Linked DNA regions of Homo sapiens: region 2 is linked to region 1. Evidence: fine-mapped expression QTL. A gene starts in region 1. The other region holds a variant in brackets. All regions are shown on one strand. Distances are between the middles of the regions.

Region 1 (2,856 bases):
TTGTTCTCAGGGTTTGGAACTTTATTTATTTTATTAAAAGAAAAGCAAAGAGCTTGATCTGTGATTATTTTAACCACTGCATCTCAGTAGCTTTCTTAACTTGTTTTCACATAGTAGCACACTGATTCCAGAAAATACATCACAGAAGTTATTTAATAAAAAATAATTCTGTAGCAAAGGAAGAAAAACACTCCCAAAGAATTTTTTTTTCAGTTATATGAATAGGTAAAAGTGAAAATTGTCTATTGTGTCATCCAAGGAAAATCAGCTCTTTTTTAAAGAAAGAAATGTACATATTTCAATCCTTCTAAAATCAAGAATTACAATTTTTTTTTCTTAAGCATAACAAAGCATACACTACAGGGGCCTAAAGTGACTCTCAGGAGCTACCATTATGCCCTCTATTTTAGTAAGTGTGAAAAATAACTTTATAAGGCCAGAAGACCGCAATGTGTTTGCTACTTACCCCAAAGGAGTTCTTTCCCTCTCGAGATGAAGGGGAAGAAGGCTTCTGTGCAGGCCATAACCAGCGTGACAGACAGCACAGCGAGCGCTCTCATTCTAAAATTAACGGAAGGAGACAGAGTATGTAATCAAGCACTGACAAGGCCATGGGAACCGCTGTGTCCTTGTCTCCCTGCTGAGGGGCTCCCTCCACTGACTCCACGCAGCCTCTACCGCAGTGAGCGACCCTCACAGGCCTGGGGTCTGCGAGACCAGAGTCGCCGTCCATGTCAGGAGGTTACAGAAACTGCAGCGCTGAGCAGGCCTCCCAGGCCCCCATTATTCAAAAACAGAGTTTTTATGTTGGCAGCTCCAGTTGCCAATATATCTCAGTAATAACCTATTTAAATTTTTGGTAATGTCAAATAGTGTAACAGTACTGGGAATAATTATTGGGAATGAAAAAAATCTGTTTCCCCTAATGCATCTATGTGGCAAAAAGTGAGTACTATTAGAAATTTAGTCTTTATAAAAGTGATAAATAAAACCCCTAAATGCCTATTGAATTTCTTAAAGCATTCTTATGTCCATAAAATGATTTTAGAATTCTAGTTGTTAAGACAAAACAGAAGATTCAAAATTCATCATTTCTACTTTCAAATCCTTGTTTTCTTCTCTTAGGCTTTCTGTGGCTATTTTTGAGCCACTAATTTTGTTAAGCAGGATAGCACCAGTGAGTCCATGCTGACAGGAATGTGTCTCAGTAGACGGTGATCTAGGAATCGACCCTACAGGACTCACATGTTCCAGCGGAGGTCATTGCAAACAGCACTCATCAGTCAGTCAGTCAGCTTTGCTGAGAGACGCCACCCATACCTGCTATAATGGCCCAAATTACAGCCACTCTTGGGCCACTTTACAAGTTCCAATGATGAATTTCTCTTAGAAAATGGAAAAATAAAAAGCTTTACAACCTGACCTTTTTTCCTCTTCTCAGCCAACTGCACTGCTGAGTAATTTTCACGGCTGTAACTCTTCTGAAATGGGCGCCTTAATTGCCTTCCAGGGACTTGGTTACCCACCTTATAAACTGACTCCGCGCTTGGATAGCCCGTCAAGATGCTAGGAAGTCGAGTGGCGTCCGTTCTTCGTGGGGACAGAATGTCTGCGGGCTTTGTTGTGTTTGCGCCGGGCCTCTTGTGTGTCCTGACTGGTCAGAAACAAAGTGCCATGTCATCGGGGTCCACATGCAGTCCAGCCTCTGGCCGAATGAGTTAGGAAGAAGAGGGGAAAAATTATACAGGGAGAAAGAATAAACCAACTAAATCCAGACTTGTGACACTTGCATTTTCCTCCCTCTTACTTTCACAGTTAAATACCCTGTGAAAAAGGGGCTGTTAATCTTCCGAGGATTGGGTTGGGTGCAGCTCCCAGGCCCACCGATGACTCGCTCTACAACTCTGAGCCTTTTGCTTCCTGTCCCCAAGCCCCTAGTTTTCTTATCACTAAGAGGTGAATAAAGTACACTTTTTTCCAATTTGTTGAGGTGAAAAATGAGCACAGTTCAGTGTGTGTTCACCAGCATGCATTCTCCCCTCAATCCTCATCATGCACCCATCAAAAGAGTCCCCACAAAGACAGAGATGTTCTGTAGGAAGGTCACCATGACTGCATTCCGAACACTGGGAGATGACATGTTTTCATGGGTGATCTGCTTTCAGGCTGTATCTCATCATGAAAATGATAAAATAACACATCTTCAATGACCTGCTCCTGAGACTTGGAGCCTCTTCATGCCCCCGGAAGTCCTATGGGTTTCTAGTTTGTGAAAATCATCTTCATCTTTCTCCTTTTCTTTCCCTTCTCCAAATGTGACTGATGCTTCCTCTAGGTAATTTGAAACCAAATGCTAAAACACGATGCAAAGGCTTCAGAACATTAATCTTTGTTAGAAGATGTTCTGAAGCCCAAGAATGTGATGATTTGCCTTTAACATTCTCCCCTCAATCCTCATCACTCACCCCTCAAATGGGTGAAGATAACAAATGAGTTAGACAAGCTCTGAAGAGCAGGGAGGAGATCAGCCAACAGTGATATAATCCCCCCACGCACCCTGAGAATGGTCACTAGGAGGGTGGGGTTTGGATAGAGAGGAAGGACCAGACTCGGTGGCTCATTAAAGAGGATTCCATGGCTCAATGATGAGTTACTGTTGGGAACAGAAGAAAAGCACAGAGCCTCTGAGGATTCAGCCATCCTCGGTTTGATGCCTAAGCAAGTGAAAATCTCATGTACTGGCCCTAGGAAGGCCAGAGAAGAAAGGAGACTGGCTGTGACAAGCAAAGGAGCAGCAGACTCAGGCTTGGAATTGTGTTGGAGGTGCCCGTGGCACAGGCGGGCAGTGAGCTCTTG
Region 2 (2,918 bases), 41 kb after region 1:
CTCTCGGATACTTGTTGGCCGGGGGCAAGTCTTCCTCTCATGGCCCAGATGGAAGTCATTGTGAAGTAGGTCCCTTTTCCCCGCCCACCATGGAATCAGCCACGGGGCTGATCTGAGATGCCAGCTGGGGAGAAAACTACGGTTCTGCTGGGAATTCTCAACGTGATTCACCTGTGTGTCCTCAGTGTGAACCACTGGCTGATGCAGGGAGAGCGGAGAGACTGTGGGAGGGGCGGCAGTGGACTTGTTTTCCCATGAGGCTTATTTCAGACGGCTTTTAAATACCGTTCTTCTTCCCAACGGACACAGGCACTTTTAGATCTGCCATGGGGCAAGAACTGCTGTTTACAACACTCAGCATGTTAGTTCTGAAACTGAAATGGCCCATCAAGATAGGTTTCAGGTAGCAGCTTATCTTTTACAATATCATCTACAGTTGGCTTAAGTATTTTGAAGCTACATATATTCATCTTAAAACTGTTTCAACTTTTTCTTCACCACAAACAACTGTATTTTAGTTTGCGTATTGTAATACCTCTGGGCCTGGAGCTTGGACTGTCCATGGACCTTTGAAGTTAAAGGCATAGGAAAAGATGCTGAGGCTGTGCCCTGGATGGGGGATCATTCCCACAATGGTAAAACTGCCACCCACACTTTCCTGTGTTTGAGTTTTCTGTGACATTTCATTATTATATACCCTGCACAAAGTAGGTATTCATCTATCTGTGCTTTTAAAAAGATTGTCCTGTTGGAAAAGATTTGGGGTAACCTGAATTTCGAAGAGTCATGTAGTCCGTCTTATGCTACGTCCCACCCAGACTCACACAGTTTCACAGAGAAAAAAATGACATAGTAGAGATAGTGTGTAGGATACATGTATAAGGTCAGTTATATTTATTCTATCCCGTGTTTATACCCAAACTCCCATATGTACACTCTATTAATAGTGAGAAAGAGTATTGACTCTGAGTTTTAAGATTAAAAACACAAAAAACCCATTATAATATAATCCAGTTTATGGAAATTCTGCTAAGGTGGCAAAATTACTGTGCACTTTGTACAGATTGTCCAGAGGGGTGTACAGCAGGATAGCTTCCTACCTGCTCTATGAAAACCCTAGTTCCTGACATGTGCTGTGGAGTTGTGTTTTAAAGGAAGCACCTGATACAAAACTGACCACCTGTTGGGAACCAGTGTGTCAGTGTCCTTCTTGAAACATGGCTCCCAGAACAAAAGTCCACGTTTCCTGTGTGAACTGACCGGTTCTGGGTGCATGGCGAGGGGCAAGCCATTGTCTGCCCATCTTCCTTCACGGTGAGCACCAGAATGACATCGGCGTTTTCAGCAGCTATGTGCCATGGCTTATCCCAGCCTGTGAGCTGCCCATCCATCCAAGGTGCCCATCCACCCAAGCTGCCCATCCACCCAAGCTGCCCATCCA[T/CCCAAGCTGCCCATCCAT]CCAAGCTGCCCATCCACCCAAGGCCGTGGCTGCAGCACCTGTCACAGTGCCTGGTCCCCGGGTTAATGCTCTACAAATACTTGTTGAATGGATCAAAAACACTTTCACCTAAATGTTCCACATGCTTCTCCCAACAGCTACTGTTTGGGAGACCGGGCTCCCCTTGAATCTTTTCTTTTTTAAAATTCAATGATAGTACTTTCTTCTCTAAAACATCGATTGTGTTAGTTTATCCCAGGGTTTTAACCTGTTAAGGGCTTTACAAAGTGTTAATTTTGTACTTCAGCATATGCCGCCTCTGGGTCTCTGACTTAGCCATGCTCCTGACGATGTGCCAGGCATGTCTTCATTTTCCACCGTAACCTGCATTTTCTGTGTGTACTTCTCCAGCTTGCTGATAGGGAGTGCTTGCAAGCGCTTCACTGAAATGAGGAACTTATGTTTCTAAGCCCGCGTCTATCGGGGCCTTTTTCACAGATAGAAAGTGCTTTTCCTTAGGGAAATGGTGCTGCCTGTGAATGCTTCCTGCTGCTTTTCTAGCGTGTGTGCACAGATTCCATTCATAACTTCAGGAGGCACCTGGTTGCATGGATAAGGACACCCTTAGAGATGGCAGGCACCGGCTCAAATCTCAAAACCCACTTTTCCTGGTTTGCTGAGAACTTCCTCCCAGATTTCTCACCTGATGCCCATAATGAGGTTGTGAGGGGGTGAAGAACAGGGATTGTGACTTTTTCTATTCCATATATGAGCAAAAGAGTTAAACATGGTAAATTCTTCACACGGGTTTAAACTTGCTTGTGGTCACCTCAGAAAGGACACAGAGTTCTCCCAACTCCTAAGCCAACAGTCTTCCAAGCCTTGGCTCCTCTGGTTTTGACAGCCAGTGTGCTGACAACTGTATTTAAAAGTCAGGTCGGAAACCTGTGGGGATTGTGGGCATCGGGGGAGGGGTTATGTACCCTCCACCTGTCTATCTCTTGTCCCAAACACTGAAAGCAGCAAACCAGAACAACATGGAAATGTTCTCCATCTTATATCTGTTTTGAAAAATCCTGTCCTAAGTTTTATCTGTCTGAATGGACAATAATCAAATGGTCCCTCCACCAGCAAGGGCAGGGCAGGATTCGTGGTTATACATTTATGAGAAGCTGTCAGCAAATCAGAAGAGCTGAACATCAGTTCCCAAGAACTATGGGCCCGGAGGGGTAAACTAGCTTTCCGGCTAACTGCCGTGATTCCTCTGGCACTGCTGTGATACGCAGGGAGTCCTGGAGGAAGAAAACAGTCAAGAAACACATGAAAATAGGCTGAGAACGCAAACAACGGGTCATGGGCGGTATCAGTGATTGGACGATTGTTACAAGGCATTTGCTGATCGCTGTCTCATATTCAAACACACCGAGTTCAACTTAATACTGAAAGTAAGATTTGGAGAAACTTGTTTATATGCTGAGAATGTTTTATTTTTCTGTA

Alleles and levels. Positions count from the first base shown, and alleles are read on the strand shown. Sizes are in standard deviations (SD) of each study's normalised expression.
For the expression in fetal neocortex of the gene that starts at base 1,506 in region 1, allele T in region 2 goes with a higher level than allele CCCAAGCTGCCCATCCAT (moderate effect, 0.59 SD a copy in Walker 2019).

What was found.
Region 2: its variant is fine-mapped to the expression of TPO in fetal neocortex (Walker 2019, PIP 0.95).

What each region holds. Positions count from the first base shown.
Region 1 is chr2:1,412,113-1,414,968 of GRCh38, reverse strand. TPO (thyroid peroxidase) reads right to left here and starts at 1,506. Exons shown (of 17, transcript NM_001206744.2): 1 at 1,424-1,506; 2 at 467-561. The coding sequence starts at 560.
Region 2 is chr2:1,371,054-1,373,971 of GRCh38, reverse strand. No RefSeq gene overlaps it. Among named protein-coding and RNA genes, the nearest start is that of TPO, 41 kb to the left of the region's middle. The variant T/CCCAAGCTGCCCATCCAT (reference allele first, on the strand shown) is at 1,442.